Linked DNA regions of Homo sapiens. The protein of the gene in region 3 purifies or fractionates together with the protein of the main gene of each other region. This does not show direct contact. Each region holds a gene or a part of one and is shown on either strand. Other genes may lie near its edges.

What was found.
Region 1: the proteins of MAML2 (region 3) and MB purify together in Homo sapiens (affinity purification with mass spectrometry; one large-scale study listed by BioGRID and IntAct). This does not show direct contact.
Region 2: the proteins of MAML2 (region 3) and MAML1 purify together in Homo sapiens (affinity purification with western blotting, with the first as the bait; one study listed by BioGRID). This does not show direct contact.

What each region holds. Positions count from the first base shown.
Region 1 is NC_000022.11:35,614,365-35,618,618, forward strand, and holds the start of MB (myoglobin), read right to left. Parts: upstream 2,966-4,254; 5' UTR 2,894-2,965; coding exon 2,799-2,893; intron 1-2,798. UniProt on the Homo sapiens protein: Monomeric heme protein which primary function is to store oxygen and facilitate its diffusion within muscle tissues.
Region 2 is NC_000005.10:179,774,124-179,777,822, reverse strand, and holds the end of MAML1 (mastermind-like protein 1), read right to left. Parts: coding exon 2,946-3,699; 3' UTR 540-2,945; downstream 1-539. UniProt on the Homo sapiens protein: Acts as a transcriptional coactivator for NOTCH proteins. Has been shown to amplify NOTCH-induced transcription of HES1. Enhances phosphorylation and proteolytic turnover of the NOTCH intracellular domain in the nucleus through interaction with CDK8.
Region 3 is NC_000011.10:96,340,396-96,344,440, forward strand, and holds the start of MAML2 (mastermind-like protein 2), read right to left. Parts: upstream 2,801-4,045; 5' UTR 1,501-2,800; coding exon 988-1,500; intron 1-987. UniProt on the Homo sapiens protein: Acts as a transcriptional coactivator for NOTCH proteins. Has been shown to amplify NOTCH-induced transcription of HES1. Potentiates activation by NOTCH3 and NOTCH4 more efficiently than MAML1 or MAML3.

The DNA.
Region 1 (4,254 bases), on a different chromosome or scaffold from region 3:
ATCACCTGAGGTCAGGAGTTCGAGACCAGCCTGGCCAACATGGCGAAACCTAGTCTCTACTAAAAATACAAAAATTAGCCAGGCATGGTGGCATGCACCTGTAATCCCAGCAAGACTCCATCTCAAAAAAAAAAAAAAGGAGCAAGGATTCTGGATCCAAGCTGCCTGAATTTGAATTCCAGCTCCTTTCTTACTTGCTGTGTGACTTGGCGTAAGTTACTTAACCTCTCTGTTAAATGTGGTGATCATAATCATATCTACCTCATAAGATTGTTGTCAGGCTTCAGTGAGTGAAACACTTAAACAGAGCCCAGCAATCAGTATGTGCTGAATAAATGGTTGCTGTCTTTCTCCTCCTCATCATCTCTACCATTATCATTATCATTATCATTATCATCACCATCACCCAGGAATTTTTGGTCCTGCCTGTGGCTGCCATTAACCGGTGGAGACTCTCAGGCCCAGTTCCTCCCTGTAATGAGAAGTAGTGACCACCACTGGTGATTTTCAAACATTTTATGACCTTGAAATCCTTTGTTCCCCCCGCTCCCCAAAACAGCCAAAGTAAATAAAACAAAAAAGGTTTGAGTAAAGAAAGGAAAAACAGGGGTGTGGAGCCCACTCAGCAGCCCCCTCCCTTCCGAAGCCCCACTCCTGGAGCCAGAATCTCCAAGTGACCTTCCAGCTTCTGTGTTCTAGAATTTTATGTTTGTGTACGTGCAGTGAAGGCCTCAGTGTTTTACAGACTGGGCTTCATGGAATTTGCCCTCTTTTACAATCAGAAGATTGGAGACATAACCTTTCAAGGTCAGTTAGAAAATCCAGAGTCAGTATCTAGAACAAAGTCAAGATGCCAACTCTCACGGGTGGCATTTGCAGTCCTGGGCATGAGCCTCCTCCACCCTGCCCCCAGGGAGGCCATCCTCCCTGTACCCCAAATACTGAGAGGGCAGAACCAGCTGGCACAGTCTCTGCATGTCCCACAACCTAAGACGTGACAGGGCACCAGGCCTCTGGGACCTTTCAGGGACCAGCAACCCTAGGCATTATGTCTTATCCCTGGCTCCCGGCCCCCGGCAAACCTCCGTGATCCTCCCTGATGATGCAACACCCTGAGTCTCTTTCAAGACGTACAAGTCACTGCCTTAGGTCTGGCAGCTCCCAAATCACCTTGGAAAGACCTCTGCTCTGCAAACTCTGGTCTCCTACCTCCACGCCTGACTGTCCTGCCTCCTCGCCAAAGGCAAAAGTGCATCAAGGACTCAGAGAATTCTAGGGCATGAGCGTGGGACGGGATCTCGGAGACCATGGAAGACAATCCCTTCGCTCAACCAGCAGAGAAATAAGGCCCAGAGGTGGAGAGACTTGTCCAAGGTCACATGGCATATCTGTGGCCCAGGAGTTGATGTCAATTTGTGTGTGTGTGTTGGTCGGGGGAGCACTTTGTGCAATCCAACAGGGCCTGTTGCAGCCAGATGACAGGGACAGGAGAAGAAAGACATAAACACACTACGATGCCATTACAGTCAACAGAAAACTCAACTCTTCTTCCTCAAGTGTTTCTAGCACGGATCACCAACGGCTCAAATTTTAGATAACGGAGCTTCCAGGACCAGCCATGCTCCCGAGGTAGACGGAAGCTGGAAATGGGTAAAGCCCAAGGGAGACCCAAAGGACGACGGAGTGGAAGAGGAAAATTGGCTCTGGCTCACAAATAAGGAGAAATTAATCTGCAAATTAAAGTGCCAAAGACAATCCATTCACTTGTGGCAACCCCGGCGCCCACTTCCTTCCTCCCGTTGGCAGAAACGTTGATTCTTAACCTATTAGACTTCTGAGGGAACCAGCTCAGAATGGTGAGGGAAGGGGCCAAGAGAAGAGTGTATCACCTTTGGGATAGAAGGCAACGAGGAGATGAGCTTCTATGTACAAACCACAGCCACCCTCTATTTACAAACCTCAGAATTTTGTTTTCTTTGGTGTATTCTGGAATCCCTTGTGGTAGAAGGCAGGATATACTTGCAGACCACATCATTCAGACCTCTCAAACTAGAGACATACTCAACATCGAAGGTCACTAATGAGCCTCTATCTTCTGTTCTCTAATTGCAATGCTTTGAAAGGTCCCTAGCCTGGGCTTCATCAGTAATAGCTACTAACATTTCTAGGACTCAGTATATGCCAGGAACCATGCCAGGCCTCTTGCATGCATTATTTTATTTAATTCTCACATCTCCTCTAGGATATAGATATTAGGATATCCCCTCACTGTACAGGAGAGGAAATTGAGGCTCCGAGAGGTTGAGTACTTTCCCAAAGGTCACCCAGTGGCTCAGTGGCAGAGCCAAGTCTAGAACCAGATCTGTCTCCCCTTGAAGAGCATGTCTTAACCTTGACACTTTAAGAGCATTTAATGAGCTGTGACTCTGGAAATGTCCTCCCCTTCTCAGTCCCTTTTTGTCCTCATCCTGTAAGAGAGGTGGCTGTACAAAATCTCTCAGGACCCTTGTTAACTCTGACTGTCTATAATTCTAAAATTCTTCCTGGTGGACTCTGAGCATCCTAGGTTTGATTCTCATGCTTCCTCCAGCTGCTGACATCAGCCTGAAATGGCTCCTTTCCCTCTCCTGAGTCCAATCCCTGACACTTAAAAGCAAAGAAAAAGCAAGTGACCGTTCTAACACCCTTAACTAATGCAGCCAACTGACCTACCCCACGTGCAAACTTTCCACCTTGCAGCTGAACACCCTTGATCTTAGGGTGTGGGTGGCAGGGGCAATGGAATCTCTTCCTTTTACCTGATGAGGACTTCCTGCCCATGGCCTGGGATGTCAGCCTCCACCTTCCCCCAGACGTTCAGCACCAACTGCCATTCCCCGTCGCTGAGCCCCATGGCGCAGTCTGAAGAAGACAAAAAGAGCAAGTATGGGCTCACTGGGTGTCCTGGCCCCAACAGCTGGGGTTTGAGGCTGCCTGGTCCCAAGGGCGTTTTTATACCTTCTGGGATGCTTGACAAAGATCGCTCAATGGCTCGCTGTCCCCCTCCCCTGCCCTCCTTCACTTTCTCTCTCTCATCCAGGGAGGGTCTAATCTTTTCCTTTCTCTAGCCCTCACATGGGAAGCTATTTTAGGGCAGGTGCCATTGTGGCGAGGCAGGACAGCTCAGGCCACAGGGGGTGGGGTGGTTGTGCGTGTGGAAAGAAGGGGAGGAGGTTGGGCACTGTCTGGACTCTCATAGCCGACAGAAAGGGCACCACAGAAGCCGACGCCAGCAGCCTGAAACCCAACGCTCCCTGCGGTCAGCCCTCCCAAGAGGACCTGTCATGTTTCTAAGCTTGGCCACCAGGTGCCCCGGCTGGCCCCAGGACAGTCCTGGCCATTCGCAACCTCTCACGCACCTTCTGCCCCTTTGCCAGAGACCCCTCACCCAGCCAGAAGTGACAGAAAGGAACCGGATGGTTTTGTGCTTATAGCCAGGTGGTCCCAGGCAAGTCCACAATCTCTTAGAGAACTCCTGTTTTCATGACCCTGCTCAAAGGTTTCCCTCTGAAAAGTTTTTCTTGACATACTCCTTTGAGACACCACTAATTGCTTCCTCCTTTCCTTTCTTTGTGTAAGTTCCTGTTGCATTGCTTCCCAAAGGGCATCCTATTTCCTGGTTTTCATGCCATCTTCTCCATTAGGATAATAGCAGCCAGCACTCACAAGAGACTTTGCTGGGTGCCAGGCCCTGTCCCAAACACTTGGCATTTGGTAACTCATTTAATCCCCGCAAGACCTCCCAATGTGATAGGTACTGACATTATCCCTATTTAATTGAGAGAAAGTAGGGAAACATCACTGATGTACAACTAGTCGCTGGCAGAGTTGGGATTTGAACTCAGGAAGCCACGCCCCTTTCTTTGCAGTTTTCAGGAGGGCAGGAGCTCTGTTTTATTAACCCACGTATCTCTTGGGCCTCACATGGTGCTTTGTGCCAAGTTTGAACTGAATAAATGTTTATTGAGTAAATGGGTGGATGGTTTTGCAAAGAAAGAGAGTGGAGGATGATTAGCCTTATCTTACATCCATGCATCCTCCTTCAATCCATTCAGGTATTCAACCATCTATCCATTTATCCACTTGTCCATCCAGTTACTCATCCATCCATCCATCTGTCATCCCTTAATTCATCCATCCATCATCTCTTTGTCTATCCATGCATTCACTCATCTATCCATCCACCACCCATCCATCCAACATCTATCAATCCCT
Region 2 (3,699 bases), on a different chromosome or scaffold from region 3:
AGCACATCATTCTTACAATTAAAAAAAGGGAAAACCAAGCTCTATGCTGAAAAGCAACTAAATAGTACATGGAGCAGACAGACTTCAGGGGCAAACCTAAGGGTTCTACATGAAGCACGAGAAGCACAGTCGTCCGGCCCAGCTCCCTCCATCAGCCGCATGGATGCCCGTGAGTCCCGGAGACAGGCTGCTTTCTCAGGGTGATGCTAGAGCTAAGAGAGCACAGTCGTCCGGTCCAGCTCCCCTCCATCAGCTGCATGGACGCCCGTGAGTCCTGGGGCCAGCCTGCTTTCTCAGGGTGATGCTAGCTCTAATTTAGTATCTATCAGCAGATAACAGAAGCTCCTCTGAGGCTTCAACCAAACCAGCTCCCACCCAACAATGTGCAATAAGAAAGCAGCTAAATCTATGACTCGACAAGCATTTCTTTAAAAAGAAAAAATTAAAAAACCAAGAAAAGCAAGCAGCTAAATTACAAAAGAAAACCAATCCCCAAACTTCTGCCAGCAGACCCCAGGTGACGTCAAATACAAAGGTTGTTTCCATACTAGCAAAATACTTTATTTTTATAATGATAAAACAAGGAAAGTAAAGATTTCTTTTTGGTGTATACCAGAGTTAAGGGCAGTAGAAGAATATGGGGATTAATAGGACTTTTATGAACTTTTGATGACAATAAAAAGTTAACAATACCAACCGTTTGCCATAAAACTTATCATAGCTCCCCCAAAACACACATATAAAGGATCATAGTTTTAAAATCTATAAAAGTAAAAAATATACAGTTGGAAGCTCTAGCGCTTATTCCATCTTTCATATAAAATTGTAAACATTTATTTACACAAAGCAAATGTGTATAACAAAAGTCTGAGCACCCTTTTCTTCTGAGTTGTGGCTCCTGGAAGACGGGGCTGTGCACAGAAGCAAAGTCATCTCCTCCCCTGACTCCCGAAAACCAGGTTCATAAATAAAGCCATGGGCAGCTCCCTGGGGGGACCCCAAGAATCACATTTTATTGCTATGACACTGCAGCAAGTGAGGAGCCCCCACTGTGTCGCCGGCCCCAGGACTAAGGCGGAGTGCAGGGCCAGCGAGCCCCGGGGACAGGGGTGGGAGACGGGGCAGCAGCCAGATGGGGTCAGGAGAGGAACAAGGATCCACAACCAGCCTTCAGCCGATTTTTGGGAGAAAAGCCGCTGAGGTCACCCTCTTCCCCTTCAGATTGGGGAACTCCCTCAGAGGGTGAAATTTTCACTGGCTTTATGATTCACCCCTTCTTTGAGAGCTAAACTGAGTACATGGGAAAGGTAGGGAAGGTGTTTTAAGGAGAAATGGCCGACATACCACTTGGGGTGGCAAATGGCTATTAGAAAAGAAGATCTGAGGGTCCAAGTACCCCCAGTGAGAAAGGCACTGCTGGTGCAAAATAACTACCAATGTGTGTACAACCTCTCGTCCCCTCACCGCGACTCAGGCTGGTTGCATGAGTATTTTCCTTGGCTCAATTCTCACATAGGACACTCCTGAATGATCCATTGGGAGACTCCAGGGAAACAGAAGTGGGGCTGCAGTTTCTCCACAGAACACTCTGCATCTGAGCCACTTTTCAGCATTCTCTTTTCTCTCCACCATTCTGTGTAAAAGGGTCTCACCCTGTGCTTACCACTTTGCTTTCGTTACGGGGAAGTGCTCTCTCCATCTTCGTTTTCCAAAAACAGCTCACATGTCATATTCTATTTCGTGGACCCTCAGCTTAGTCAAGTCCACTTGAATCTTTAGAAAGGATGTCTTAGTGTTATAAAGCAATCTCTTTAAGAAGTGCAAGTCATCTGACATGGGAGTGGCAGAAGTTGTCAAACCAAGTGGAATTGCTTCCTCCGGGCCGGCCTACGGCCTCCTTCCCCAAAACCTTTATGCTAAGGTTCCCTTAGGAATTCTAAGACTCTTCCTTTCCCTCCAATGGAGTAAATAATTGTTTTCCATTTGGGCTGCAGAGAGGAAGGAGAGGCAGACAGAAAGGCCAACGGTAAAGGAAAGACATCTGTGCACAACTGCACAGTGACCACGCTCCCACCATGGGCAACATACATGTTCAGAGAAAACTGCAGAAGGTGGGGAGACATAATACTCCAGGATACAGGACCCCCACATCTCTACCTTCCATATGTAGCCTGGGGTCCTGCTGCCAGGACATGGGAGGAAGGGATTCCTGGGGGCCTTGGGAGGGAGGAGGAGGAGCTGCTAGGAAGACCCTAGCTGTGTCACCAGACCTGCTATCCCATGCCTCCTGTCCCTTTTTGGCATACGCAGTCAACAGCCTGCACTTAGGGAAATAATTTTCCAGTGGCCTCCTTCTCCCCTGAAAGCTGACAAAGAGCAGAAACAAAAAAGGCTCTTAATCAAAAGGAAACCCTAGGTTTCCAATGCCACTTAATTGATTTAAACCATCACCTACCCTAATCTGTTTAAAAACCTTTTGTAAAAAAATTTAAAAATCTTTTCTATGCTACAAATTGCAAATAATTCTGCTATCTAAAGTTTCAACAGAAACTTGTCCCCAGCACTGGGGTAAGTGGAGCAGTCTTGGATAAAATCACCATGATGGCACAGATTTTTATAAGCCCGACAGTGTGGGGTTTCACTGGTGTTACTGTTGGTTTTTTGGTCGTTTGGATAGAAAACCACCTTTAGAACCCTATCCTGCTGTCCCAACACCAGGTACTGATGCCAGCAGATGGGCTGGGGCCAGCCCGATGGACCTCAACTGCTGGCCTGAGGGGCGCAGCCACAGACCCTGCCCAGGGCCAGGCCTCACCTGGAGCTTGGGCTCTACCTGCCCAGCTCCCCAGGCCATGGGCTTTTGGTCCAAAGTAGTTGCTCTTTCTTTGAATCTGAGAATAAAAATATAGGATGAATGAACACTAAAAACACTACAAATCCTTCCATTACTGAGACCCTAACAGGTCGTCCAAATCACTCATCCACTCCTCTGAAGTCCTGTTCTTCAGCAGGGAGTCGATCAGATCGGTGTGTCCAGCCACACTAGAGAGCCCACTGCCACCTGGCTGCCCGCTATAGGCAAAAGGCAGCTCCTGGCCCGCGGTCCGCACAGGGTAGGCCTGGGTGCAGTGCAGCCCCGCCCGACCGCCCATCTGTGAGGCAGGGCTCTGGCTGAAGGCCCCCAGCTCAGGCCCTGCTGGGCTCAGGCCAGGCAAGCCCTGCTGAGGGGCTGTTGGGGGTGGTGCTGGGGCAGGGGCGCTGGTCCTCTGCTGTGCACTCACTGGGGGTAGCAAGGACCCCACGGCAGCTGCTGAGCTCATGGGAGCCATGGGCCTGTTGGGCACTGCCTGGGAGAATTGCGGGCTAGACATTTTCAGGTGGGCCTGCTGCTGCATGTGGAAACTGGAGGCTGCAGTGAAGGGACTCACGTTGCTGTTCCCTGGGGTCTGGCCACTGAGGTTCGGCATTCCCTGATGCTGCCAGGAGGAATTCTGGCCTCCCATGGCTGGTGACACCCTTGGGACCGGTGGCTTTGTTAAACCAGGGTTCAGGGTCCCCTTATTGTGCTGCTGGGAGAGGCCAGAGCTTCCCAGAGAGTTCTGCCCATAGGCAGCTGAGACGGAGGTGTTCTGGCCCACGTTGGTCTGCCGTGGAATGTGGGCATGTCCATTGGTGGCCTGTGGCGGGGGCTGGGCAACT
Region 3 (4,045 bases):
GGTTCTACCTTCCACCAGAGGCCACTGGTCCAGCAGCTTTGGGGGGAAGCCTGCAAACAGCAGGCAGTCACCTGACCAGGACTGGCACTGAGAATCAATGATCCAAGGGATACTCCTCTGGGATGGTGTGTGTCTGTGCCTCTGGGGAAGAACTTCCAGCCAGAAACTTAATCAGAACTTTTGGGTTTGATATCCTATCACCAGGAGTGGCTGAAGACAAGGTATTTCCTAGGATGATGATCTGTGTAAATAGCTGCTTCGTGCCTGTCTGCTTAACGAATGCTCTAAGGGAGCATTACTGGATTGGACTGGAGTGCTTGGGAAAATAATCGAGATGTGGCTCAGGAGTGAGAGAGTCTAGAGGGAATCAGAGAGTAGGCCTCTTAAGAAACAGTGCCTCCCTAGTCTCTCTTTGGGATATTTTCCCCAAATTTTGTTTTTGACTGAGGGGACATTCGGGGAATTTGCTATTTGTTACAGCTTACCATTTATGTTCTCTTAAGCGAAGAAGAAGGGGGTCACTTCAAAAGGGAGAGGGGAAATGGGGCAAGGAGAAAAAGGCTTTAATAAAGGCCAGCTGGGCTGATAAATGCTTTGGGGCTGAAAAATGGCTTGGGGGCCTAATCAGAGCTGGCTGGCCAAAGCTGGAGGATCCATGAGATAGAACCTTCCTCAGTGGCTCAGATCTTGCCAGCTGGTAGCCTCTTCTTTTATAAGATGTGGACCCCAGAGAGCCTCTGGAAAACTCAGGCTTCTTATCAGTTAAGGAATATCCTATAAGCGAAGGAAAACCCAGGAGTGAGCACCAACAGAACATGATGAGTAGGCGCATGAAACCACCCGAACACACCCAATGGCCTTTAAGGTAGTCAGGTGACATCTTGGCCTTTTTCATTGCCATCCACTCTACCTTAGGCCAAAGCAAACTCTACCCTCACAAAAGGTCACAGGACCACAGCCAGAACCATGAGAAAGCCAGGTGCTTACCGCAATCAGGGCTGAGTTCCTCTGGTCCCCTGGGGTTGAAGCGGGCGGCTGCTGCTCTCCGTTTATCCCACCACTGCCACCATTATTGCTACTGTTCAGCAGGTGCTGCTGGTGGTGATGGTGATAGTCTGGTGGGGGCGGTGGGGCTGCTGTTGCTGCTGCTTGGGAGGCCGCAGGAGGGGCAGCAGGGGGCGGTGGAGGGGCTGTAGTGGTGGCAGCAGTGGCGGTGGCCTTGGTGTGTTTGCCAGCTTTCCTTGCCCCCTGGCCATGCTGTACAAGGCTCAGGAGCTGCAAGGTGCTTTCTCTTTCCCGGTCTGAGCTCTCGGCCCTACCTCGTTCATATCGTCCTTCACAGCTCAGGTGGTGTTGGCGGCAGACAGCGATCCGAGCCCGGAGGCGCTCCACGATAGCACTGTGCACTCTCGGGGTGACTGAGCCCCCTCCAAGGAGCCCCGCCCCAGAGGCCCCCCCTAGCCCTCCTGCGGGGGCCTGCGGGGGCGCTGTGTCCCCCATCTTACCGGACACAATGATTGCTGCCTCTGGGATGGTGAGGTGGAAAGAGGCTACTGCTGGCTATTGCAGGCAAGTCTGTTTTTGACAATGTGAGCTCAGTGTTCAGGGCCACATGAATAGAGGTCTTCAGAGGTTGTGGGGGAGCCGTGGAGAAGTTGTGGGGGAGGGGAGTTAGTAAAAAGAGGGTGGGGAGAAAGAATAGAAACCAACTGGGGGGAGGATAAGTTGGAAACAAACCCTGATTAACTTACTCTAATTGCATTTGACAGCTCTGGAGAAGTTGGACAGAGTTGGTGGATTTTTTTTCCTCCACCAAGCTGACAAGAGCCACTAGGTACTTTGTAAACACACGATCTGGGGGTTAGATCAAGAATTCAGGGATTGTCCAGCAAGAGACAGAAACACACAGCAAAAGGTATTGAGAGAGGTATTAATAGAGAGGACTCCCCCTCACCTAGTTGTTTCCGACAATTCTTTATGGGGATGTTTCTGCAGAGAAACACATTTCTACCATGTCTATGTAACCAGCAGCCTTGACTTTTCCTCAGGTTAAATAAAAAACCAAAACAAAACAAAACAGTGCTGTTTCAGAAGATGTTTAAGTCACTGTTCAAAATGTGCAAAAATCAAGGGAGACTGTCTTTTGGCTTTTAATTTTTCCTCCCTTTCCTTTCGCTCCGGTGTTTTCTCCTCTTTGGGGTACTGTAGGATGTTGTCTTCTCCCAAAAGAGGGAGACAGCTTTTCAACTGTTAACAATGTCAGTAATTGGACTTTTGGACCATGCTTTTTTCTTCAGCTAATCCAATCACCGGTAAAATCCTCACTCCCTCTAAGGTTTCCTAGCCTTAAATGAAAAGCAATCTTAAGTCGCTAGCCACTGAGAGAGATCCTTCAACACATTTTTTTCTTTCCCGCTTACGTTTCTATTCCTCACCCCCGGCTCTATTCTAATACAGTATCAAGAGAGACAAACTCTTCCGAGAGTAATTTACAAACGATGGTCAAACTTACAAACTTCCAGCAAATTGCACCGAGTCATGTCCAGCCACTTTTCTGTCCACTTTTGTACATTCCATCCCCGGCCAGTGGATCTGAGGGTCTGGACTCGCAATAAGCAATCTGGTTCTATCTCCTGTATTTGCTCCGCTTTATAGATGGAAAAAAAAAGTAGCTTGTATTTTCCTTTCTCTTTCTCGTCTGTTGTTAGCCGCTTTGCTGACACTGGCTCGCGCCCGGAGTCACGGCGATACACAGGCTTTCATTGTGCTCCGATAGGAGAGGGAGAGAAAGAGAGAGAGTGAGACAGAGAAGGAGAAAGAGAGAGCCAGCAAGCTGCAGATGGGGGTGGGGGGGCGGGGAGAGGGCGGGAGAGCTCGTTCGAGGCTCCCTGGTGGAAGGCTGGTGCCACTGCGCGAGTGAGTAATCGCAGCCAGGCACCGGGGAAAGGGGAACGCAGAGGGCCTCCCAGTGGCTGAAGAGGTAAATCCCAAGCCCTGCGCATCTCAGCTGCCCTGGCTCAGCTCAGCATCAGACTCGGTTAAGCGGGGAAGGCTGGGGAAATTCCCCAACCTCTACACAACCATTTCACCAGCTCTAAATGTTTAAGAAATTCCGGGCCAGGAATGTGTTTTCCCTTTCAGCCCTACATTACGCCCCGCTGAGGATATCATTTTCATTTTTCAGTATATTGTAAATGACACCACTGAGCAACCTAGCACGAGCTGTGTGAGCACCGAGGAAATGTTCATTAATAGAATAAGGAAGATATGAATGTGTGTGTTGAGGGCGGAAGGGGTTGCGCGTGGAGAGGAGAGGTAATCACATTGTTAGCTCCTAAAGGGCAGGCAGGTGTAGCGTTTGTCTACCTGCCTGCCCATTTGTGTGTCTCTGGATAAGTGAGTCTGGGTGATCACAGGCAAATCAGTTGGGATAAATAAAATATTTTATGAGAATGATACAATTATCGATACCAGTTCTAGAAAAAAACGCTTTTTTTTTGGGAATGCATGATTGCCTATGAAAAACCAAATATAAGACCTGAAGTATCCTTAGCTACCTGGTGCACATATACAATGAGGAAAGTCAATGTGTAGCAGCTGAGTTTCAAAAAGTTTTTTTTTTTTTTTTCTTTTAATGGAGTCTTGTTATGTTGCCCAGGCTGGAGTTGAACTCCTGGGCTCAAGTGATCCTCCCACTTGAGCCTCCTGAGTAGCTGGAACTACAGGTACTCACCACTACTGCACCTGGCTCTGAGTTTCAAGAAGTTTAATAATAGAAACCAAATAGATCTCACACAGATCATTGTTCCCCCATTTTCAAGTGATCCAACCTTTAAAATATCCAATCCTGGCCAGGCACAGTGGCTCACGCCTGTAATCCCAGCACTTTGGGAGGCCAAGGCAGGTGTATTACCTGAGTTCAAGAGTTCAAGACCAGCCTGGCCAATATGGTGAAACCCCGTCTCTGCTAAAACTACAAAAATTAGCTGAGCATGGTGTCATACGCCTGTAATCCCAGCTACTCGGGAGGCTGAGACAGGATAAT